7 linked regions of the Homo sapiens genome follow. The protein of the gene in region 1 purifies or fractionates together with the protein of each later gene. This does not show direct contact. Each region holds a gene or a part of one and is shown in the gene's direction. Other genes may lie near its edges.

The links.
Region 2: the proteins of PCDHGA9 (region 1) and PDXDC1 purify together in Homo sapiens (affinity purification with mass spectrometry; one large-scale study listed by BioGRID and IntAct). This does not show direct contact.
Region 3: the proteins of PCDHGA9 (region 1) and GLRX3 purify together in Homo sapiens (co-immunoprecipitation; one large-scale study listed by IntAct). This does not show direct contact.
Region 4: the proteins of PCDHGA9 (region 1) and DDX19B purify together in Homo sapiens (co-immunoprecipitation; one large-scale study listed by IntAct). This does not show direct contact.
Region 5: the proteins of PCDHGA9 (region 1) and GMPS purify together in Homo sapiens (co-immunoprecipitation; one large-scale study listed by IntAct). This does not show direct contact.
Region 6: the proteins of PCDHGA9 (region 1) and SAE1 purify together in Homo sapiens (co-immunoprecipitation; one large-scale study listed by IntAct). This does not show direct contact.
Region 7: the proteins of PCDHGA9 (region 1) and ADISSP purify together in Homo sapiens (co-immunoprecipitation; one large-scale study listed by IntAct). This does not show direct contact.

Annotation. Positions count from the first base shown.
Region 1 is NC_000005.10:141,405,778-141,409,277, forward strand, and holds part of PCDHGA9 (protocadherin gamma-A9 isoform 1 precursor), read left to right. Parts: intron 1-2,243; exon of another isoform or gene 2,244-2,425; coding exon of another isoform or gene 2,426-3,500. Other genes in the region: PCDHGB6 (protocadherin gamma-B6 isoform 1 precursor), read left to right, coding at 2,426-3,500. UniProt on the Homo sapiens protein: Potential calcium-dependent cell-adhesion protein. May be involved in the establishment and maintenance of specific neuronal connections in the brain.
Region 2 is NC_000016.10:15,027,026-15,030,525, forward strand, and holds part of PDXDC1 (pyridoxal-dependent decarboxylase domain-containing protein 1), read left to right. Parts: intron 1-1,852; coding exon 1,853-1,941; coding exon of another isoform or gene 1,942-2,007; exon of another isoform or gene 2,008-2,780; intron 2,781-2,925; coding exon 2,926-3,031; intron 3,032-3,500.
Region 3 is NC_000010.11:130,167,391-130,170,890, forward strand, and holds part of GLRX3 (glutaredoxin-3), read left to right. Parts: intron 1-2,042; coding exon 2,043-2,100; intron 2,101-3,500. UniProt on the Homo sapiens protein: Together with BOLA2, acts as a cytosolic iron-sulfur (Fe-S) cluster assembly factor that facilitates [2Fe-2S] cluster insertion into a subset of cytosolic proteins.
Region 4 is NC_000016.10:70,312,686-70,316,185, forward strand, and holds part of DDX19B (ATP-dependent RNA helicase DDX19B), read left to right. Parts: intron 1-2,216; coding exon 2,217-2,270; intron 2,271-2,954; exon of another isoform or gene 2,955-3,283; coding exon 3,284-3,419; exon of another isoform or gene 3,420-3,457; intron 3,458-3,500. UniProt on the Homo sapiens protein: ATP-dependent RNA helicase involved in mRNA export from the nucleus.
Region 5 is NC_000003.12:155,912,150-155,915,649, forward strand, and holds part of GMPS (GMP synthase [glutamine-hydrolyzing]), read left to right. Parts: intron 1-2,269; coding exon 2,270-2,421; intron 2,422-3,500. UniProt on the Homo sapiens protein: Catalyzes the conversion of xanthine monophosphate (XMP) to GMP in the presence of glutamine and ATP through an adenyl-XMP intermediate.
Region 6 is NC_000019.10:47,200,335-47,203,834, forward strand, and holds part of SAE1 (SUMO-activating enzyme subunit 1), read left to right. Parts: intron 1-3,336; coding exon 3,337-3,406; intron 3,407-3,500. UniProt on the Homo sapiens protein: The heterodimer acts as an E1 ligase for SUMO1, SUMO2, SUMO3, and probably SUMO4. It mediates ATP-dependent activation of SUMO proteins followed by formation of a thioester bond between a SUMO protein and a conserved active site cysteine residue on UBA2/SAE2.
Region 7 is NC_000020.11:3,761,254-3,764,753, reverse strand, and holds part of ADISSP (adipose-secreted signaling protein), read left to right. Parts: intron 1-3,500. UniProt on the Homo sapiens protein: Adipocyte-secreted protein (adipokine) that acts as a key regulator for white adipose tissue (WAT) thermogenesis and glucose homeostasis at least in part through activation of protein kinase A (PKA).

The DNA of each region.
Region 1 (3,500 bases):
CTTAACTTTCTATTATAGTTAGCTTTCTCTTTAACTGTCTGTACTTAAGGTAGTATAAGTTGATATCAGTGTGTTTCTCATCACTTTTCACTGGGCCTAATTGTTGCTCCAACACTGAAAGGAGGCATTTATTAGTTATATTTGCTGATATAACTTTCATGTTCTCATAATAATTAACCTGCTGTCAACGTAAACCATACTTCATGGGGTAGCTCTCAGCCTGCATTGATGTGGGCTTTTTGGGTAGGGTTGCTTCATTGGTTGCAGTGGACTCATATCATAAAATTCTTACTCCTTTTTTTTTTTTTTTAAGAGATGGGGGTGTCATTCTGTTGTCCAGGGTGGAATGCAGTGGTGTGGGTAAAGCTTACTGCAGTCTCAATCTCCTGGGCTTATGCAATCCTCCCACCTCAGCCTTCACAGTAGCTAGGACTGAGGTGGGAGGGCTAGCAAGCTATGTTGCCCAGACTGGTCTCAAACGATCTTCCTGCTTCAGTTTCCCAAAGCACTGGGTGAGGTGTGAACCACCTCACCCAGCAAATTCTTACTCCTACGATCATTTATTCAGGTCATACTATGTTTGTAAGGGTAAACTGATAAAAAGGTAAATGTATTCTTCTTAGAGAAACAGCTGAAAGCCCAGATTTATTGCTTCTATTCTTCCATTTCTATGACAGGAAAACACCTCTTTGAGGTTATATTTTTCAGATCACAAGTGTGTAAAGTCTGTTTGTGTTTACAGATATTTTCTGACGAAGATTCAAACTTCAGTTATCCACTTCCAAACCCTAGTAAACCAATTTTTTCCCTTTAATGGTGAAAGTTGTCACATCTTTTATTCTCATATCTTCAAAGGTCTTAATTTCCTAATGCTTTAATGTTAAATTATGGAGAATAGTAGGACATTCTTCTTTTCTATAGTATATGCTTGCTCAAGAGAAGTTTCTAAGACTGGACACTGTGAAATGACAAAACAAGGAATTAAAAATATTTCTCTCACTTATATATTATTTCTGGCTCAATTCTCCAACTTTTGAGTCTAGAAATGAACTTGCATATCAGATATAATTTAAGAAAATATTCTCAGGAACTGCTGGGAAGATTCTAAAACTATTTTACTGTTTTTAGCTATAAGGAAGAGAATAATGTATTATTTAATGTTATTTTAAACATAGTGTTGTTTCAAATAGTAAATAACATTTCACAAGACATTTGAAAATAAGCTTTGAAGTTGACTCAAAATTCTATGCTAAACATGTGATCCATAGATACACTGATGACTGCTGGCATTTCTGTGGAAATGAAGAATTGTTTTATTTGTTTGTAATTATTTGGGTTTCAGTTGCTTTATTTTTAAGAAAAAAAAGCTGAAGTGTCTGGGAATCCTTTATGACATACAGACATTTTAATTATTTCAAACACGTTTTCCCCCTTAAGTGGGTAGCAAAAAAAATAAAGCATACTTCAGGCTCATATTTTTAACCATGCAACAAGAAAATTGTTACAATTTCTGTTCTGAGGAGTAGCCTTCATACTTAGTATTTATAAATATTGAAATGTATGTTAATTTGGGGAAAACATAACAGATATCCATGAAGGCTTGTATGTCATGGTAGGTAGTTACTATTCGATACCACAAAAATGTCTCTTGCCCTTAAAACCAGAACACGAGGCTCACCAGACAGATGACTGAATGGAGTATGGAAAATCTTTATTTCTGTTTTTCTTAGGCTATGTAGGACTTAACTTATTGTGCATTGGTAACAGATTGTAGAACATAAGCTGAAAGATAAAATTCTTGACCTTAATGTCTCATCTTAAAAAGAAGCATTGGTTGACATTCTATATCTCGTATTACTTAAAAATAATGGGGGAGCGCAGTATATATTAAACAAAGATTGGCTTTGTGGTGATCATTGTTGAAGGTGGGGTGATGGCTATGTGAAGGTTCACTATATATACTCCCTACTGTTGTATAAGTTTGAAATTGTGCATAATAGATTTATTTAAAACACAAAGCATAGAAATATCTACTATAATATTATGGTGAGAGCAAAATTTGAGGGGGATGTACACCTGCATTTTCGAAGAATATATACATTTCGGAGACCGAATTCAAAATGAAAAACCGGGCTGCTGTCCCGCACGGAGCCTCTGGGCGCCGCTGTCGGCCAGTGCAGAGCAAGCGCTGACGCCGGGGATCCGTCAGCCTCTGGCCTGGGATTCCCTGCGCAGCCAACAACAGAAAGAAGAAAACCAGCTCCCACACAGAGCCTCCCGGCTGCGCAGACCTTTCCCAGCACAGCGGATTGCCAGCTCCGAGACCCGGGACTCCTCCTGTCCTGGGCCGAATGCTCTTTTAGCGCGGTAGAGTGCACTTTCTCCAACTGGAAAAGCGGGGACCCAGCGAGAACCCGAGCGAACGATGGGAGGGAGCTGCGCGCAGAGGCGCCGGGCCGGCCCGCGGCAGGTGCTATTTCCTTTGCTGCTGCCTTTGTTCTACCCCACCCTGAGTGAGCCGATCCGCTACTCGATTCCGGAGGAGCTGGCCAAGGGCTCGGTGGTGGGGAACCTCGCTAAGGATCTAGGGCTCAGTGTCCTGGATGTGTCGGCTCGCAAGCTGCGAGTGAGCGCGGAGAAGCTGCACTTCAGCGTAGACGCGGAGAGCGGGGACTTACTTGTGAAGAACCGAATAGACCGTGAGCAAATATGCAAAGAGAGAAGAAGATGTGAGTTGCAATTGGAAGCTGTGGTGGAAAATCCTTTAAATATTTTTCATGTCATTGTGGTGATTGAGGATGTTAATGACCACGCCCCTCAATTTGATAAAAAGGAAATACATTTAGAAATTTTCGAATCTGCATCCGCTGGTACACGACTATCGCTTGACCCTGCCACGGATCCTGATATAAACATAAACTCAATTAAAGATTATAAGATAAACTCTAATCCTTATTTTTCATTAATGGTTAGAGTTAATTCCGATGGTGGCAAATACCCAGAGTTATCTCTGGAGAAACTCCTAGACCGGGAAGAACAGAGATCTCATAGCTTGATATTGACTGCCTTGGACGGAGGGGACCCACCAAGAAGTGCCACCGCTCACATAGAAATTTCTGTCAAGGATACCAATGATAACCCCCCGGTTTTCAGCAGAGACGAATATAGAATTAGTCTTAGTGAAAATCTGCCCCCTGGGTCCCCTGTGTTGCAAGTGACAGCCACTGACCAGGATGAGGGGGTCAATGCTGAGATAAACTACTACTTCCGAAGCACTGCCCAGAGCACAAAACATATGTTCTCATTGGATGAGAAAACAGGTATGATTAAGAATAACCAGTCATTTGATTTTGAAGATGTAGAAAGGTACACCATGGAAGTGGAAGCGAAGGACGGAGGTGGTCTCTCTACCCAGTGTAAAGTAATCATAGAAATCCTTGATGAAAACGACAACAGCCCAGAAATAATCATCACTTCTCTCTCTGATCAGATTTTGGAGA
Region 2 (3,500 bases), on another chromosome or scaffold:
AATCTGTATCTTAAAGAATGACCCAAGTGCCACCAGTCTAGTCCAGGGCACCACTCTTTTTTTACCTGGTTGGCCATTGTCCCCTGTCAACTGACCTCTGACTTTCATACATTCTACACAGCCCATTCCAGACCATTCTCCACCTGGCAGAGAGGGTTATAAGTGGAAGTCACATGGTGTTGAAACCGGAAAGGTTCCCTTGTCCCCCTCGCAGGGCATGTGATGGGGGTGTGGCTCGCTTCTTCAGTGCCCCGCTGCTGCTCAGACCTCTAGGAGAGCATACAGACGGGCAGGCTGTGGGGCTCCGACCCCATGGCAGCATCTGGGGGTGAATGTTTTACAGCTCCTAAGGCTCCAGCGGGCATGTGTTACAGTGTGCTCTTTTAATTTAGCCGTCTGTAGGCAGCTTGTTTTAGCTCACTTAGACCCCCTTCCTTATCACAAGGACAGAGGGATTAATGTATCCCAGGTTCTTGTCTTGGTGTACCGGAAGAATGGGATCACATGTGGGCTTGGAGAATGAGTGCAAGGTTTTATTGAATGAAAGTAGCTCTCCGCTGATGGGGGAGCCAGAAGGGAGACAGATTTCCCTTGGAGTTGGGCCGCTCAGCGGCCCTGGCCAAACTCCGCCTCGTCCCCGTGGTTGATGGCCTGCTGGCTTGCCGGGGCCTGTCGGGGTGCTCTTCTGCCGGCCTGCTCTCCATGACCAGCCGCTTGTGTCTTTTTCCACCAATGTGTTCCTCTGGCCATCCAGCCACTTCTGTCTGCCCACTAGGGTCTCAGGTTTTTATAGGCCCAGGATGGTGGTGTGGTGGGCCAGCGTGGTCTTGGGAAATGCAACATTTGGGGGAAGGCAGGAGTGCTTGTCCTCACCTAGGTCCGTGGGGGTAGAGTCCTAGCCAGGGACCCGCCTTTCTCTCCCCAGCACTTCCCTTCCCCGCTTCTGTGTCATTTAAAGGGACCACGCTCTTCCCTTCCCAGCACTCCCGTATCAGTGTCACTTCCCTGCCCAGAGCCCCTGGGTATCTTACCATTTCGGTCGAACAAAGGCCAGGCTCTCCCATGCCCCATGAGGCCTGCACACTCTGCCCCGAATTCGCTTCTGCCTTCCCCCCTTCCACTCTCCCTCTTGTTCGTTGTGCCTCAGTCAGACCAGTCTTCTCCGCGCTCCAGAACACTCTGCCCTTTCCTACCGCAAGGGCTTAACACTCGGCGTTCCCTCTGTCTTACACACATTTCTCTCTTCTGGTGCCAGCTCCTCCTCACCATTTCGGTCTCCACTAAGTATCCACATCCTCAGCCTTCCCTGCCTATCGTGCCTGAGGGGACTCCATCATTTTCTATCAGAGCCCCCAGCTTCACTTGTGACACTAACAACCACATGGAGTGATTTTCTTTCTTTATGGTCTGTTTCCTCAACTAAAATGTAAGCTCCAAGATGACAGAAACCTTACCTGCCTTCTGTCCCAAGTGTCGGGCTCTGTGCCTGGCACGGGTTGGCACCCACTGTGAGGCCTAGTTAGATGATCGTGGCACTCACAGACCTCGCACGGTGCTTGGTAAACTAGTTAGTAACTTAAAACAATTGCTGTTTCCCCTTGAAATCCCTTGAAAGCAAACCTTTTCAAAAATGAAATTAATAATTCTGTCTTATGTGAATGTATTCAAGTGTTACATAGATCACGAGGAAAAAGAAATGTAGCCCTTCTGTCAGATAATACATGAGAATTCAGTAATACGAGTCAGTGCCCTGGGGCTAATATTGGGATGGGAATGATGTGGGGTTTGGAGGGTGTTTTTTTTGGTCAGCCGTGTTTCTGGGAGTGACTCCCTTTCTGTGTTTTGGTGTCAGATCCGGTGTTTAAAGCCGTCCCAGTGCCCAACATGACACCTTCAGGAGTCGGCCGGGAGAGGCACTCGTGTGACGCGCTGAATCGCTGGGTGAGAATGGCAGTCACCCCCCTTTCCTTTCAGGTCCCCGTCCATCACCATCCGACCTGCTGGTGAGGGTGACGCGTGCTCGTGTATGGGAACTGAGGCCCACAGGAGGAGCCGCCCTGCCAGTGCTGGGCCTGCTCTGGAGTTCTGTTCCCCATTGCGTTACCACCTCACGAGCTGGGTCACCTCTGGCAAGTCCTTCTGGCATTGCTCCCTCACTTTCCTTGCTGCTGTATAAGGCTGTGAGACAACAGGCAAAAGGTGGGCTGCAGGGCAGCTGCGGTGGGTTCTGGTGAGCCTGGGCAGCACAGCCGGGAGCCCCAGGCAGAGTCTGCCGAGCATCTGCAGCTGGCAGTGTGGAGCCAGGCCTGCACTTTGATAGCGTTTTGGGCACTGAATAGCAGCTCTAGGATTTGAGTCTGAAGGGTCTTGTGAACAGTGTGGGATGGCGGCAGCAGCAGTTCTAGCCAATGCTGGACACGCCCAGCCTAGCAGGGTTGGCAGATAAGTCCTGGTACATCCATGCTGGGGCTCAGCACAGCTGTGAGAGACCACAGAGCTGAGTGTCTCAAGCAGAAAGGAACTGGTCATAAACGAAATGAATCAATGCAGGTTACTAAGCAGTGTCAAGTAGCATGTTTTATGACAACAACTACAACTCCCTGCCCGCCACTAGGAGAAAAGACGCTGGGGGCAGACCACATGTCAGCAGTGGGTGTCGCTTAGTAATATATTGTGGGTCATTGTTATTTTCTTCTTTTTGTTTACTTGTATTTCCTAAATTTTTCTACAATGAACTTGTATTAATAAGAAAAAACCATAAAATTTACTGTTTTTAAAAAGCTGCTCTAAGTAATCAGACAGTCAAAAGAGCAGGAATCAGCTCTCCAGGAGGCTCTTTGGTCTGGGGCCGAGGGGATGAGGGTGGGTCCTGAAGACGTCTGAGTCCCTTGTTACAGGAGGGTGTTCATTGTGTCCTCCTCACAGCTGGGAGAACAGCTGAAGCAGCTGGTGCCTGCAAGCGGCCTCACAGTCATGGATCTGGAAGCTGAGGGCACGTGTTTGCGGTTCAGCCCTTTGATGACCGCAGCAGGTAAACCAGGCTTGGTGGACATCCCTTGCTTTTGTTCTGGGGCTGCTGGGTAGATTAGCTTGCCCTTATGATACTCCATTCTCCTAGAGTTATTAGCAGCTCTTTTTGGAGGGGCATTTTCTTTTCTTTTGGGCTAAATTTAGGTAGATTAGCATTCCCATGTAACTTACCAGAATCAGAATGAGAATTCAGAAGTCACCTGAATTGGCCGGGCATGGTGGCTCACACCTGTAATCCCAGCACCTTGGGAGGCCAAGGCAGGCAGATCATCTGAGGTCAGGAGTTCGAGACCAGCCTGGCCAACATAGTGAAATCCCGCCCCTACTAAGAATACAAAAAATTAGCCAGGCATGGTGGTACACACCTGCAGTCCCAGCTACTTGGGAGGCTGAGGCAGGAGAATCACTTGAACCTGGGAGGCCGAGGTTGCAGTGAGCTGAGATTACACCACTGCACTCCAGCCTGGGGG
Region 3 (3,500 bases), on another chromosome or scaffold:
GTGAGTGTGAAAAACTCATCACCTCGCAACAAGCTTTGAGCACTTCTCATGGCCTTTCTAGACCACGAGAACTTACATGAACAGATTTTGGAGGTGTGAAACATGTATTTGTTTTATCAAGGATCTCACTTGGCTTTTAGAGACGTTCTCTTACAGAAATGTTGGACTTTGGTGTGTAAGGCAACTTAATGGGATTTTTATTGCAGTAAAATTAATATAGAACTTTAAAAAGGAATTTATTATATCAGCAATCAGCCATTCATAGTTGGGGCTGGAGATTGTAAGATAAACCTTCCTTTGGTAATTTTTTTTTGCCATGTAACATCTTGAGAATTTCTAAAAGTGTTTAATAATAATAAATACCTCATTTGTCTGTCGTTAATTAATAATTTCTATAAACAGCGTCCAATCCACGTATGTCAGGCTGATCTTTGAGTGCCGCATTCTGTCCTGTGGTTGGTACCATTTCCTGTGTTCTTCATGAGAAAATGATACTCCTCATCCCTTTTTTGACTCTGGGCGTCTTCATGTGTGGTTCTTGCCTGTAGCCTGGTGATGCCCTTGGCCCATGGAGGCTGTGTGGTCTCCAAAGACAGCTGTGTTTTTTATATGCTTGTATTTGCTCTTCAGTTGATTTTCCTTCTCTGCTGAGTGCACTTGCCGCTGTTAATGGCCTTGTCTCCATCAGACCTCCGTTTCCTAATGTGCTGCTTCTAAATCTGTGCTTGCAGACACCAAAGGGTAACGGGCTAGAATTATGTCGGAAGGAAAATTCAGCATATTTGGAGTAATAATTTAAAGGGCTCCGAGTGAGCAGAGTGTAGGAAGTGGAGTTCATGGACTTGTGACATGTATTTTGGCAGTACTTTGTGAGCTGTGGTTCCCTGTATCCAGGTGACTGGGTTAGTTAGTTGGGTTGTCAGGGTCAGCATTGTATTCCTATATCTGTTCATATTTTTCTGAACTTGAGCTAATCCCACTCGGTTGGCAATGTAAGTGATACAGCTTTGTGCGTGATTGATGCATTTCATTTGGGATGAGTTTATAAGGATATTTATTATTATTTTTTTTTGAGACGGACTCTGGCTCTGTAGCCCAGGCTGGAGTGCAGTGGTGCTATCTTGGCTCACTGCAAGCTCCGCCTCCCGGGTTCACACCATTCTCCTGCCTCAGCCTCCCGGGTAGCCGTGACCACAGGCGTCCGCCACCACGTCCGGCTAATTCTTTTGTACTTTTTAGTGGAGACGGGGTTTCACCGTGTTTTGCCAGGATGGTCTTGATCTCCTGACCTCGTGATCCACCTGCCTCAGCCTCCCAAAGTGCTGGGATTACAGGCGTGAGCCACCGCGCCCAACCTCTAAGGAGATTTTTGAGCTGTGAATTGGGAGAACATGGTGGCGTGACCCCATGGGGCTTAGGTTCTTTAGTGACCCGTTGTCCCAGCACTGACTTTTCTTGAGATTTGTGACTAAACTTGTGGCTGTATACAGATAATTAAAATTCCTGACAGCATGTTAGATTATGATGTTTGAAAGACTATATAAAATATAAAACATGTTAAGATGAGAGAATTTGATTTTAGTATCTGGCATTAGTTGATGTTCTGAGGTTTAACGCTGTCACCCTGCAGTCCGACCTTGTGAGCTTTACACGTGTACAGTGGTATGCAGCATCATGATGGAAGATGGTGCACACAAGATCTAGTTCTGGAAGTTTTGGATGGGCTTAATATATAGGCCCCTTATTGAACAATTCCTTACTGAATTGGTTATTATTATTATTTTTTTATTACTGTGAGTTGATGGGCTTAAATTGCAACTTGAAGGAACATTCGTTGCCTTAAAAGCCATATTGTGTTTTACAGTGGCTTAGGGAGAGAATGAAATCAAGGAAAATGTCAACGCATTTGCTTGTTTAATACCACTCAAAGCTGTGAACTGTCATCCTGCCATCCCTCAAATATGCATGTTACTCACGAAGCGGAGGAAAAGTGGTGTTGCATAATTGAGCTGAGCCGTTTTATATCAATTTTCTCTCTTTAGGCTCAAAGTGCTGACAAATAAAGCTTCTGTGATGCTCTTTATGAAAGGAAACAAACAGGTAAAGAACTCAAAAATGGTTTTATTTGTAATTTCTTTTGATGTTAACATCTGCAACAAGGGGACAGTTAAATCTTTTTCCTAGCTTTAGCTAATGAAGCTGTAGCGATATCAGGAAGTTATCCACGCCTTAATTGGTGCTTACGGAGATCAAACAAAGTAATCTACATTTTGCTTGACTTTATCATCAACATCTCAGTGGGGTGCATTTCTTTCTGCTGCCAAACTTTGTCAGCTAATGTGGTCAACACTGTTAACACTTTACTGGTTGTATGAGTTGTTATGTCATTATCCTTTGTTTGAGTTTGTGGACTGCTGAAGTGTGCAGCTGAGTCAGTGGACTTCCTGAATGCAGGGAACCTGGTCGTGCTTGGGTTTGCACCCCTAGATCGTCCTTTTGTGACAGTGGAGGAGCAAACCCTGGCTGTAGCAGGTGTGCTCTGTGTGTTTGATGAATGAGTGAAATGGTCAGCAATTCTCATTTTTAATGGGATGGTTCTTACAGCTTTTTGATGTAAGTACATATTGATTATGCGTCATTTTGAATATCAAGTTTGATAGATTACTTCCACCGATAGTTTGAGCAGAACTAATTTTCTTTCAGATTGAGATCAGAGTGGTAATTTCCAGAAACCAGCCATACACATTTATATCATATTTTGTAATTTTCATAGCAATTGAACCTCTACTTAATTCTCAATCAGTTGTTGAAGTAGGCAGGGTTGGACAGACTTTGGCCTGTTTTAGAGATAAAGAAACCAAAGTTTTGAAAGGTGAGGCTGTTGGAATAAAGAAACTGCCTCACTTGTTAGCAAGATGCACCGGGCAAGTGACATGGAGAACCACTTTGCTCATTGGGAAAGGGACACAATACTTCACAGGGCAGACTCTGGTTGCCATAACTAGTGTATAAGTTAACATAACTAGTATAATGAAGCTAATTAGTTAACATAACTGGTTAATATAATTAGGTAATAATGAAAGTAACAGTAACAAAGAAAATGTTAATATAAATTTCAGCATGTTGGAAACATTAGGTTAGGGCCTAAATTCTTTGATTTTGGTTCAGTGTATTGAAACAATAGAGGAAGTTAATAATTCCTAGTAATGATAAAGTGACATTTTTTCTTATTCTCGGTAATGGTTTAAGTGGATATTTATTCTCAAAACTATTTTTTTCTGGAAACCTAGAAAGTATTAATACATTTTGGAAACAATGTTATTGGGGCTATTAAAATGTTGACATGGTACCATATCTTTTCCACAAGATTGCTGGAATTTGGAGTCCTGTGGCATGAAAAAAGCTTAAGATTTTCATAAACTCAAAAAAGTGTTAGTATTCTGTAATGTAAAAATAAATGAGGCTGGATGCGGTAGCTCATGCCTGTAATCCCAGCACTT
Region 4 (3,500 bases), on another chromosome or scaffold:
AAATGTGATTTCCTTCAGTATTTTTGTTTTGGCATAACAACTGTCTGGAAAAAAATTTGTATTTGTACCAGGCAGGGCATTGGCAGATACTGGTACCATTTGATTTGTAAATCAACAAACTGGATTGTATGACCAAAGTGTTTTTATTTATTTTTTTGTTTCTGTTTACTTTTTAAGAGACAGGGTCTTGCTCTGTTGCCCAGGCTGGAGTGCAGTGGTTCAATCATGGTTCACTGGAGCCTCAACCTCCCAGACTCAAGTGATCCTCCACCTCAGCCTCCTGAGTAGCTGGGACTACAGGCACAACCCACTACGCCCAACTAATTTTTATTTTTTATTTTTTATTTTTTTGAGACAGAGTCTCGCTCTGTTGCCCAGGCTGGAGTGCAGTGGCTCGATCTCGGCTCACTGTAAGCTCCACCTCCCGGCTTCACACCATTCTCCTGCCTCAGCCTCCCGGGTAGCTGGGACTACAGGCACCTGCCACCACGCCTGGCTAATGTTTTGTATTTTTAGTAGAGATGGGGTTTCACTGTGTTAGCCAGGATGGTCTCAATCTCCTGACCTCATGATCCACCGGCCTTGGCCTCCCAAAGTGCTGGGATTATAGGTGTGAGCCACTGTGCCCAGGTATTTTTGTTTTTTTATAGAGATGAGGACTCCCTGTGTTGCCCAGGTTGGTTTCTAACTCCTAGGCTCAAGCAGTCCTCCCGCCTCAGCCTCCCAAAGTGCTGGGATTACAGGAGTGAGATATTACACCTGGTTTCAAAGTGTTTTTAATACAAGAATGAGGATTGCACACTGATAGCAAGGGTGTGGGGGGAACAAAGAATGAGGCTACTTAAGTGGGACTAATTACTAACCATCGGACTACATTGACAAAGACTAATTTTTTTCTTAATGTTCTCAATTTGGGATGAGATAGACAAAGTATGAGCAATCTGACAGTTTACCTATCCTAATTATTCTGAAATCATATTTATCCAAAGTTAAGATTTCCATTAAATTATTGTTGATGTACTTAATATTACAGGAAGGAAATGTAACATTTGCCTTTCTCAAAATTCACTTAAATCTTTTTTGTATGATTTTATATAACCACAGTATCATTCGACTATAAATTTATATTAATCAATTTATAGGCCGGGTGTGGTGGCTCACACCTGTAATCCCAGCACTTTGGGAAGCCAAGGCTGGCGGATAACCTGAGGTCAGGAGTTTGAAACCAGCCTGACTAACATGGTGAAACCCCATCTCTACTAAAAATACAAACATTTGCCAGGTGTGGTGGTGCACCCCTGTAATCCCAGCTACTCAGGATACTGAAACAGTGGAATCTCTTGAACCTGGGAGGCAGAGGTTGCAGTGAGCTGAGATCGCACCACTGCACTCCAGGCTGGGTAAGAGTGAGACTGCATCTCAAAAAAAGAAAAAAAAAATTTATATGCATGAATTTTTTTTGTTGGTCTTACTGCTCATTTGTTATATACATGAATTTTAATGGCATTATTGTGTTCACCTATTGATAAAATACGATTTGCATAGATATTCCTCTGTTGAGCATCAAGGTGGTTTCTGATCACTAATTGCTCTAATCTTTCTATAATATTTAAGAAGTATTGATTCAATGAGGGAAATAACAGGTTTTGAGGTACGGAGAGGAGACCTAGAATAGGAAAGAATATGAGCAACAGAGGCCGGGCGCGGTAGCTCACGCCTGTAATCCCAGCACTTTGGGAGGCCAAGGCAGGCGGATCACGAGGTCAAGAGATCAAGACCAGCCTGGCTAACATGGTGAAACCCTGTCTCTACTAAAAATACAAAAAAAATTAGCTGGGCGTGGTGGCGGGTGCCTGTAATCCCAGCTACTCGGGAGGCTGAGGCAAGAGAATGGCGTGAACCTGGGAGGCAGAGCTTGTAGTGAGTTGAGATCGCACCACTGCACTCCAGCCTGGGCGACAGAGCGAGACTCCATCTCAAAAATAAATAAATAATAAAATAAATATCTATCTATATATATATATATGTGAGCAACAGTGTTTTACACCTTTGTTTATTTAGGGACAATAAAATGTTTTTATCAGCGGCTCGGTTTCCTCATTTATTTTTTGCTCCCCAGGCCTTTACAAAAACTTCTAGTGTCATAGAATTTGAATTGTCTCAACTGTTGGGTATGGGATGCGATTTTGAATGATGGCCACTTTGTGTCTATAAAGGTGCTGTTGTCAAGACCAATGCCAATGCAGAGAAGACAGATGAAGAAGAGAAAGGTAACACAGCCGTGGAGCTTTATATAATAACAAGCTTCTACATTCTAAGAAAGTGGATTGTTATGAGGCTTCATTTTTATACCCAGTTTGGCTTGACTTTAATAGGCGATACAGTGCTAGCATAAAGGTTCAATATAGGGGCCGGGCACGGTGGCTTACACCTGTAATCCCAGCACTTTGGGAGGCCGAGGTGGGCAGATCACGAGGTCAGGAGATCGAGACCATCCTGGCTAACACGGTGAAAACCCGTCTCCACTAAAAATACAAAAAAAAAAAAAAAAATTAGCCGGGCATGGTGGCAGACGCCTGTAGTCCCAGCTACTTGGGATGCTGAGGCAGAAGAATGGCATGAACCCGGGAAGCAGAGCTTGCCATGAGCCGAGATCGAGCCACTGCACTCTAGCCTGGGCGAAAGAGCGAGACTCTGTCTCAAAAAAAAAAAAAAAAAAAAGTTCAATATAAATAGTCAGTAGGTGAAGGAGTTCTAATGGTTTACGTTTAGAGAAATTTTACATTTAACAACTGAACAGTTGAATAGGGCATTATAAAAAATTTTCAGTTGCATCTCTATTGTCCAGTAAAATTAAGCTTAATGTTATTTTGACACATTTGACATGGATGACGAGACCAACTTGTCCAATATTAAGGTACAGACTTTGTTAATTCCTGTTTTTTTTTTTATTGTTGTGATTGCTACATTAATTACTTTAGGTTTATATATAGTACAAATTGGGGAGTAAATATGTGGGTCTGGATAGGAGGAATAGATAACTGCAGGAAAAGAGGGCTGTTAGAATAGAGTCTGGAAAAGAATATGAGGCCTAAATGGGTGATGTATCATAACTTTTTTCTTTAATAAAACTATTTTAATTTATAAGTCAAAACTATGACGTACCTTGAATTTGAATGTTCAGTACATTATTATTTAAAATACAAATGGCAGTTGAATTAGAGTAAACGCCTGGTAGGTTTCAAGGACTTTTTAAAATTCTTTGCTTTCTTTTTCCTGACAGAGGACAGAGCTGCCCAGTCCTTACTCAACAAGCTGATCAGAAGCAACCTTGTTGATAACACAAACCAAGTGGAAGTCCTGCAGCGGGATCCAAACTCCCCTCTGTACTCGGTGAAGTCTTTTGAAGAGCTTCGGCTGTGAGTATTTATTCACCTTCTGACTCTTCCCCTTTGCACTGAAATAGAGATCCTAGGTCTGTTATAGATATCTTTTGACCA
Region 5 (3,500 bases), on another chromosome or scaffold:
ATTGATACCAAAAGGCTGAATAAAATGAAGACTTGTAGGTAAGTATGATGTGAACATGAGTCTATTTTTTTGAAACTTCTCTAAAATAACAGTAAAAGCATAAAACAGTGTAATACCTTAAGGATGTGGGATAGAGGAGATGACAGAAGACAGATGGTTTCAATAAAGTGTTGGAAAGTGGAAAGCAGATGGGTAAAGGTGGATTTTCTCTGTTTAAGCTAGGGGGGTCTCTCCCAACATCCTGGGAAGGTCCCCAATGGTATCTTCACATGGTGATAGGTTTTTGTGAAATTTGCAAGATATTTTGATAATTTGTAGTTGTTTATTTTCTTTCAACTCTGACTTGTTTTCTGTTAGGTGGTGCTGGAATAGCTGTGGGCATTTTGAAATCAGGCTAAGACAAAGATGAGCTGGGGATGTGCTTAGTATGGGTTTAGTGGTATATATGTGATTTGCAATTATTTCTGTGTATAGTTAAGTACTTGTTAGCCATCCCAGTATAACTTAAGATTTTTAGTATCTTATTTGTTATTCTGGTTCTTGAAGGAGTCCTTCAAATTGTAAAACTTGGATCTGTCCCTGGTAACTGACATAGCAGAATGGAGGAATTCACAACCTTGGGGTGGGGTGGGAAGGAAGCCAATAAAAAGCAAGCTGATTTGTGCTGTAGACTTCTGGGGAGGCTCAGGAATTTGAAGCATTGGGTTCTTTTTGGGACATTGGTCTCTGGGTTAGCCTAAAACAGGGATTAGTTAAAAATCTGAGAAGCAGATCCTTTTCCTTAGCACAGGAGCAAACTGTGCTCTCCTTCCCCATCAGAACACTGTGGATGTATTCTCTAGAGGGGCTAAACGAGAGGTTCTGGGCTTGAGCCTACTAATACCAGGCATAGTTGAGGGTGGAGGTAAGACTCTACATTAAGAACAGGATTAAGTAAAATTCTCTATGCTGAATGGTGATTCCCTCTTCCTACCACTTCCTCTGTTTAACTGCCAGAATGCCAATAGGCAGGAGAGTAGATATGTCTTCTCTGGGTAGTTGACCAGGTACAGGAAAGACCTACAAATTCACTGGCTTTTCCACAATGAAATAGCCAGCTGCCTTGTCATCTTACGGTGAAGGCCTCCAGTAGCTAAGTTTTATTAGCAAATAGAGATCTTAGTTTTTAGTTTCTTGTCATTAAATAAAAAGCCAAGGATTGTTAAATGTATGTTCATAAATATTAGTTTTACAAGACACTAGGGTGTGATTCCAACAGCTTTGACTCCGTTTAGGAGCCGGTGCTTTTGACTTCTTTGGGGCTAAGCTTCTTGCTGTGGCTTCTGCTTGTTGCTCTGGTGAAGCACTGAAGAGAGGGAAAACAATCAGCATAAATTTTTTTTTTTTTTTTGAGACAGAGTCTTGTTCTGTTGCCCAGGGCAGAATGCAGTGGCACAACCTCGGCTCACTGCAACCTCTGCCTCCCAGGTTTAAGCAATTCTCTTGCCTCAGCCTCTGAGTAGCTGGGATTGCAGACATGTGCCACTACGCCCCACTAATTTTTGTGTTTTTAGTAGAGATGTGGTTTTGCCATTTTGGCCAGGCTGGTCTCACACTGCTGACCTCAAGTGATCCACCCAACTTGGCCTCCCAAAGTGCTGGTATTACAGGTGTGAGCCACCGTGCCGGCCCTAATCAGCATAATTTGTGATGTCATGGCCCTAGATCTAAATGCCAGGAGATTCTCACAGAAACAAAATTTAATGAGTGCCTGTATCTGAATTCTGTTACTCAGGATTTATTGATAGTTCTTTTTCTTTTCTTATTTTTTTTTTGGGGATGGAGTCTCTCTCTGTCACCCAGGCTGGAGTGCAGTGGCACAATCTCTGCTCACTGCAAGCTCCGCCTCCCGGGTTCACACCATTCTCCTGCCTCGGCTTCCCAAGTAGCTGGGACTACAGGCACCCGTCACCACACCCAGCTAATTTTTTGTATTTTTAGTAGTGATGGGATTTCACCATGTTAGCCAGGATGGTCTTGATCTCCTGACCTCGTGATCCACCTGTCTCGGCCTCCCAAAGTGCTGGGATTATAGGCATGAGCCACCGGGCCCGGCCAATAATTCTTGAATATTGATAGTTTATTGAAATTTGTAGGCAGATTTAGGGGAGATCAAAGGACTGCTCTTCAGACTGGGAAAGAAATAGCTTTTCTTTCTGTATTTTGACTTGTTATTTTTGATTAAAAAACATGTTATACCAATTTAAAACGCTTCTCCCCTTTCCTCCAGTGATAAATGCTGCTCATTCTTTCTACAATGGAACAACAACCCTACCAATATCAGATGAAGATAGAACCCCACGGAAAAGAATTAGCAAAACGTTAAATATGACCACAAGTCCTGAAGAGAAAAGAAAAATCATTGGGGATACTTTTGTTAAGGTACCTTTGTTTTTAATATCCTCAACATGTACTATTTTTGATGTGAATCTTAGTATTTGTTTTTCCTTGTCACTATATCAAATAACCAAATTAGCTAATTTTAATCCTTTTTCTTATGTGGCTGAGAGTTTTATTGTATATTGTCATTATATTGACCAGTAGAAACTGTTTTATGTTTTTTTGTTGTTGTTTGGTTTTTTTTTTGTTTTTTTGAGACAGAGTCTTGCTGTGTCACCAGGCTGGGCTGGAGTGCAGTTGCACGATCTCGGCTCGCTGCAACCTCTGCCTTCTGGGTTCAAGTGATTCTCCTGCCTCAGCCTCCTAAGTAGCTGGGACTACAGGGGTGCACCATCATGCCCAGCTAATTTTTGTACTTTTAGTAGAGACGGGGGTTTCACCATGTTGGCCAGGTTGGTCCGGATCTCCTGACCTCATGATCCGCCCGCCTCAGCCTCCCGAACTTCTGGGATTACAGGTGTGAGCCACTATGCCCAGCCAACTGTTTTATGTTTTAATAAACATGTTTGCCTACATTGCCAGGCTATTATTTTAAGAATAGATGTCTTTAAGAGTAGATGTATTCAGCTTATCATAGACTTTAATTCATTGATTATCTCAATGGCTAATTTCAAGCTCTTGAATGGAATGTTCACATACCTTTGTTTTTGTTTTTTTTTTTTTTTGGAGGCGGAGTTTTGTTCTTGTCACTCAGGCTGGAGTACAATGGAGCGATCTTGGCTCACGGCAACTTTCACCTGCTGGGTTCAAGCGATTCTCCTGCCTCAGCCTCCCGAGTAGCTGGGATTACAGGCATGCACCACCATGCCCAGCTAATTTTTTTCTTTTTTTGAGATGGAGTCTCACTCTGCCGCCCAGGCTGGAGTGTAGTGGTGCAATCTTGGCTCACTGCAAACTTTGCCTCCAGGGTTCAAGCGATTCTCCTGCCTCAACTTCCTGAGTAGCTGGGATTACAGGCGTGTGCCACCATGCCCGGCTAGTTTTTGTATTTTTAGTAGAGACGGGGTTTCACCATGTTAGTCAGGCTGGTCTCAAACTCCTGACCTTGTGATCTGCCTGCC
Region 6 (3,500 bases), on another chromosome or scaffold:
CAACACTCTCATCTCGGCCTCTTGCGTAGCTGGGACTATAGGCGTGTACTACCAAGCCTGCCTAATTTTTTTTTTTTTTTTTTTTTTTTGTATTGACAGGGTCTCACTATGTTCACCAGGCTGTTTCCTATTTTTTAAAGTTATGAACCGCATAACAAGAGAGTATACAAAGCACATCTGCCTGAGTTAAATGATAATTAATACTTATTTATTTTTGTTGTAGAGACGGGGGTCTCACTCTGCTGCCCAGGCTGTTCTCAGACTCCTGGATTCAAGCCATCCTTCTGCCTTGGCTTTCCAAAACTTCTGGGATAGACAGGCGTCAGCCACTTGTATCTCTTTTAATTTGGAATAGCCCTTGGCAAACTGGCTTGCCACCTCTTTTTGTAAATAAAGTTTTATTGGCACACTTACTCATTTATATATTATCTGTGGCAGCTTTTGTGCCACAGCAGGGTTAAATAGTTATAACAAAGACCATATGGCCCATAAAGCTGAAAATATTTTATTATCTGGTTCTTTTGTTTGTTTGTTTGTTTTTGAGACAAAGTTTCACTTTGTCACCTAGGCTAGAGTGCAGTGGCATGATCTCGGCTCACTGCAACCTCCACCTCCCGGGTTCAAGTGAATCTCCTGCCTCAGCCTCCTGAGTAGCTGGGATTACGGGCATACGCCACCATGCCCAGCTATTTTTTTTTATTTTTTTATTTTTTTTATTTTTTTTTGAGATGGAGTCTTACTCTGTCACCCAAGCTAGAGTGCAATGGCCCGATCTTGGCTCACTGCAACCTCCGCCTCTGTGCTCTGTGGTTCAAGTGATTCTTCTGTCTCAACCTCCTGAGTAGCTGGGACTACAGGCGCGTGCCACCACGCCCGGCTAATTTTTGTATTTTTAGTAGAGATGGGGTTTCACCATATTGGCCAGACTGATCTCAAACTCCTGACCTCATGATCCACCCAGCTTGGCCTCCGAAAGTGCTGGGATTACAGGCATGAGCCACTGCACCTGGCCTGTTATCTGGTTCCTTTTTTTTTTTTTTTTTTTTTTTTTTTTTGAATCAGAGTCTTGCTGTGTCACCCAGGCTGGAGTGCAGTGGCGTGATCTCGGCTTATTGCAACCTCTGCCTCCCAGCTTTAAGTGATTCTTTTGCCTCAGCCTCTGGAGTAGCTGGGACTATAGGCACGTGCCACCACGCCCAGCTAATTTCTGTATTTTTAGTAGAGACGGGGTTTCACCATATTGGCCAGACTGAACTATTCCTCCAATACGGCCAAAATGAGATTCTACCAGCAATGGGAGGAGTTTTTTTAATTATTATTATTGGGAGTCTCTCTCTCACCCAGGCTGGAGTGCAGTGGCACCATCTCGGCTCACTGCAACCTCCACCTCCTGGGTTCATGCAATTCTTCCACCTCAGCCTCCCGAGTATCTGGCATTACAGCTGCCCGCCACCACACCCGGCTAACTTTTGTATTTTAGTAGAGACGGGGTTTCACTATGTAGGTCAAGCTGGTCTTGAACTCCTGACCTCAAATGATCCACCCGCCTTGGCCTCCCAAAGTGCTGGGATTACAGATGTGAGCCACCGCACCCAGCCCTAGTTCTCCATGTATTTTAGAGCTCTGTAGTGGACCTTGATAAGCAGGAAGATGTTACCCCTGGATGAACAAAATGGGAATGTGCTGGTCCTGGCCAGGGCGTAAGGAGCCGGAGGTGCCTTTGGACACAGCTCTTGGGATTGGAATGGATACAGCCTTTTGGGAGGGCATTTTGGCAATACATATGAAAAACTAGCATTGCTATATTTAGAAATTTGTCTTAAGGAATTATTTCGACGCCTGTGTCTTTGTCAAGATGTATGATTACAGTGTTGAACAGCTTAAATGTCCCTCAATAGGTTATAGAACAGAAGAGTAATAGTTGATAATATTTGGGTTTAAAATTATACCTATTTATTTATTTATTTATTTTTTGAGACAGTCTTGCCCTGTCACCAGGCTGGAGTGTAGTTGTGCGATCTCAGCTCACTGCAACCTATGCCTCCCAGGTTCAAGCGATTCTCCTGCCTCAACCTCCTGAGTAGCTGGGACTACAGGCTCACCCCACCACACCAAGCTAATTTTTGTATTTTTAGTAGAAACGGGGTTTCACCATGTGGGCCAGGATGATCTCGATCTCTTGACTTTGTGATCCGCCCACCTCGACCTCCCAAAGTGCTGGGATTACAGGCATCAGCCACTGAGCCCGCCCTAATTATACCCGTTTAGATTGTGCACTTTTAAAAATGTCTAGAAGGGGCTGGGCGCAGTGGCTCACACCTGTAATCCCAGCGCTTTGGGAGGCCGAGGCGGGCGGATCACGAGGTCAAGAGATTGAGACCATCCTGGCCAACATGGTGAAACCCCGTCTCTACTAAAAATTCAGAGTAGCCGGGCGTGGTGGCGGGTGCCTGTAGTCTCAGCTACTCAGGAGGCTGAGGCAGGAAAATGACATGAATCCGGGAGGCGGAGCTTGCAGTAAGCCAAGATCGCGCCACTGCACTCCAGCCTGGGTGACAGAGCGAGACTCCGTCTCAAAAAAAGTCTAGAAGGATGTGCACCACACTGGGGAGATTGGAGGTAGTTCTGTAGGGAGGCTTTCCCTTTCACTTGTCTGTGTTCCAGTTTGCTTGGTGAGCACACAGCATTGTGTTCAGGAGTAGGAGCTGGCAGAGCACACTTCCTTTGGGGAAGTGGTGGAATTAAGTGATTTGCTTACTAGGATGGGTAACTTGGAGGGGCAGGTGACTGTGTCATCTAAAATTTGTCCTCTAGATGCCCCATCCTGGCCCAGAAGGGCTGGTTTCTATGTGGGTTGTGAAGACTTTTTCTGCCCTCATACTTTAATTTCACGCCTCAAATTTCCCTTGCTTCCTACATGTTAACACAGGCCTGCTCCCTGACATTTGTCTGGGAATAGCATATAGAACCCACTGGCCATTATGGGTAAGAAGAGAATTGCGAGAATGTGACCAGGGCACTGAAACATCTGATATCTCTAGGACAGATATAGGAAGCACAGATATAGTCTTTCCTTTAACTTATAAAGGTAAAAATAAAAGTATTGTGAAAGAATTTCTGCTTGCCAAAGTTCAAAGGTCTTTTCCAACCACTTATGAATCCCTTGCTCAGATTTCATTTTCACGCCTAGATGCCAGCATTAACACTGCTATCTGAATCGGGCCCTCCTGCTAGAAGTTGTTTTTATTCAGGAGAGCCTACTACTGAATTTCTCCAGATGTCATGGTCACAGTTCTGTTCCCAGTGCTCCATTTTCCTTGTCTTCCTCTCTTTTAGGTACTGCTTCTCCGAGATGGCCCCAGTGTGTGCGGTGGTTGGAGGGATTTTGGCACAGGAAATTGTGAAGGTAAAACATCACTGTGGAGCAGAAAATTGTTAACCATGACTTTGTATATGTGCTGACAGAGAGAATGGAAACTGTCTTAGACAGCTGCCTGCTT
Region 7 (3,500 bases), on another chromosome or scaffold:
CAAATGTGATGTGGTCATTCATTCAACAAACATAAACCAAACACAGCTCCTCCCTGTCTGGTGCTGCGCTGAGTGCCGGGGACACAGGGTTTGACAAAAACACAGTCACTACCCTTGTAAGGTGAGGAAGAGGGATATCAAATGATCCCAGACATGAGAAAGGGGATTCCAAAAAGAGCTGTAGTCCTGTCCTGGGATTTGCAGGGTGTGCATCCTTAAAAAAGAAATGTTGGGGCTGAGACCCTGTCGAAGGTGTGGCTGGGAGGGACGGGATTGTTCCTGGCTGAAGGGATGACCTGGGCAAAGGCAGGGCGGGGGGACGGTCAGGCAGTAGGTTGGGAGGAAGACAGGGAGGGTGCCCTGCATGGACCAGTTCAGAGTGTTTTGTGAAAAGGGCCTGCAGCCTTTGCTCACCAGCCACTGGTGCAGTTTAACCAGAGCCTTCAGGAAGCATCCTGGGAGATGGGGGGACCTTGAGGACACTGGGCTGTCACTGCCTCCTGGCTGCAGAGGTGTGGCTGGAGCAGCCTCTGCAGGATAGGAGGGCCTCACACTCTTGTGCTTGGCCATTTGTCATATACTCTGAGTTCACAGCTTTGGGGGCAGCTGTAGTCGGGGGGCGGTTACGGCAGGCTGCTCTCCAAGACCAAGTTCCCTGGGGACAAGCTGAGCTTTCCAGGGCTGAGGCAACTGACCCCACAGTGGCCCTGGCCAGAGGTGAATGGGTGTAGCTCCACTTCCTGCACCCTGGGCTGGGGCCTGGAAGCTCACCTCCAAGAGGGGGTTGCTGGCCTGGTCCATTGGCCAAAGGGGGCTCCTGGTGGTACCCAAACTGTGAACACCCTGCCCATGAGGCAGGGCTTGGGCCTGGGTGGACTTTGCCCACATTGAGAAGTGGGGAGCGAGGTGAGGCCACATCTGCTCCCAGAGCAGCTTGGCACCAGAGGGACCTTGAGATCATGCCCTCCACAGGCCCAGCCCTAAACTATGAGGCCACCCTGTAGTTCCTCTTCTGTCCCTGGACTGATGAGCCAGTGTCACTCATCTCTAAGTTGTTCAGTATGTTTCCCTGACAAAATAAGGACATAATTCTTTACATAATACAATTCCATGATCAACTCATTTCTTAGTGTTACCTCATATCCAGGCCATTTACATTTTCCAGATCCCCCAAATGTCTTTTTTTTTTTTTTTTTGAGACGGAGTTTTGCTCCTTTTGCCCAGGCTAGAGTGCAGTGGCGCAATCTCGGCTCACCGCAACCTCCGCCTCCTGGGTTCAAGCGATTCTCCTGCCTCAGCCTCCCGAGTAGCTGGATTACAGGCATGCGCCACCACGCCTGGCTAATTTTGTATTTTTTAGTAGAGACAGGGTTTCTCCATGTTGGCCAGGCTGGTCTTGAACTCCCGACCTCAGGTGATCCGCCCGCCTCAGCCTCCCACAGTGCTGTGATTACAGGCGTGAGCCACCTCACCCGGCCTTTTTTTTTTTTTTTTTTTTGAGACAGAGTCTCGCTCTGTCACCCAGGCTGGAGTGCAGTGGCGGGATCTTGGCTCACTGCAACCTCCGCCTCCCAGGTTCAAGCGATTCTCCTGCCTCAGCCTCCTGAGTAGCTGGGATTACAGGTGCACACCACCATGCCTAGCTGATTTTTGTATTTTTAGTAGAGATGGGGTTTCGCCATGTTGGCCAGGCTGGTCCCAAACTCCTGACCTCAGGTGATCTACCCGCCTTGGCTTCCCAAAGTGCTGGGATTACAGGTGTGAGCCGCAGCGCCCGGCACCCCCCAAAATGTCTTCTTTGATAGGTAGTTCGAAACACCCTCTCCTTTATTTTTCTTCTTGCAGCTGATGTGGTGAAAAAAACAGGTCAGTTGTCCTGAAGATTATCCTTTTTTGGTCTGTTAAGTGTGTGTTGATCTAGAACAAGGGTTGGCAAACTTTTGCTCTGAAGGGCCAAATAATAAATGGTTTAGACTTTGCAGGCCATATGGTCTCTATCATAACTACTTGGAAGTAACTTTGTTTTAGTGCAAAAACAGACAACATGTAAGTGAATGAAGTGTAGTGTTCTATTAGTAAAACTTTATTTGCAAAAATTTATTTGCCAGGCCTGGCGGCTCACGTCTGTAATCCCAGCACTTTGGGAGGCTGAGGTGGGTGGATCGCTTAAGCTCCGGAGTTTGAGACCAGCCTGGGCAACTCTGTCTCTACAAAAATTAGCCGGGCATGGTGGTGCGTGGCTGTGGTCTCAGCTACTTGGCAGGCTGGGGTGGGAGGATTGCTTGAGCCTGGGAGATTACGGTGGCAGTGAGCTGGACTCCAGCCTGGGCTGGACAGAGTGAGACCCTGTCTCAAAAACAAAAACAAAAACACAACAGGCAGCAACCTTACCATCAGCTGTGTAATCAGCTGTAGTTTGCTGCTTTCCTATCTAGAATAATCTCCCTCGTTTTATTTTTCTTCTTTCTTTTTTTTTTTTCTTGAGACAGAGTCTCGCTGTGTCACCCAGGCTGAAGTGCCGTGGCGCGATCTTGGCTCACTGCAACCTCCGCCTTCCGGATTCAAGTGATTCTCCTGCCTCAACCTCCCAACTAGCTGGGACTACAGCTGCCCGCCACCACACCCGGCTAATCTTTGTACTTTTGGTAGAGACTGGGTTTCACTATGTTGGCCAGGCTGGTCTTGAACTCCTTACCTTGTGATCCGTGAAAGTGCTGGGATTACAGGCGTGAGCCACCGTTCCCAGCCTGCTTTCTTTTTCTTCTTGACATTTGAAAACAAAAACAAAAACAAAAAACAGGTCAGTCATCCTGTAGAATATCCTGCCTTCTGGGCTCGTCTCATTGCTTTCTCATGGAGTCATTAAATTTGTTCCCCTCTCCTCTGTGTTTTTAGCAAATGAGAAGTTGAAGTTAGAGGCTGGTTTAGATTCCAGGTTAAACCTTTTTGGCAGGAATCCCTTGTCAGTGATGCTGTGACTTTGGGCTGCCTTACTTCAGGAGGCATCAGTGTGACAGGCTGTCCTGCAGAGAGTAGAGAGATAGACCAGTGTGTGACTGGGAGAAGTCACATACCTCCATTGCAAACTTGTGCCATTCCTCTTAAACACCAGGTCCTCGGCCAGGCATGGTGGCTCACACCTGTAATCCCAACACTTTGGGAGGCCGAAGTGAGCGGATTGCTTGAGGTCAGGAGTTCGAGACCAGCCTGGCCAACATGGTGAAACCCTGTCTCTACTAAAAATACAAAAATTAGCTAGGCGTGGTGGCGGGCGCCTGTAGTCCCAGCTACTCGGGATGCTGAGGTGGGAGAGTCGCTCGAACCCAGGAGGCAGATGTTGCAGTTAGCCGAGATCGTGCCATTGCATCCCAGCCTGGGTGACAAGAGTGAAACTCCGTCTCAGAAAAAAAAAAAAAACAAAAACCATACCAGGTCCTCTGTCAGTGACGCTTGGGCGCCTGTGAGTATCTGCTTCCTGTCAACCTTCCCCTCTGGTTTAG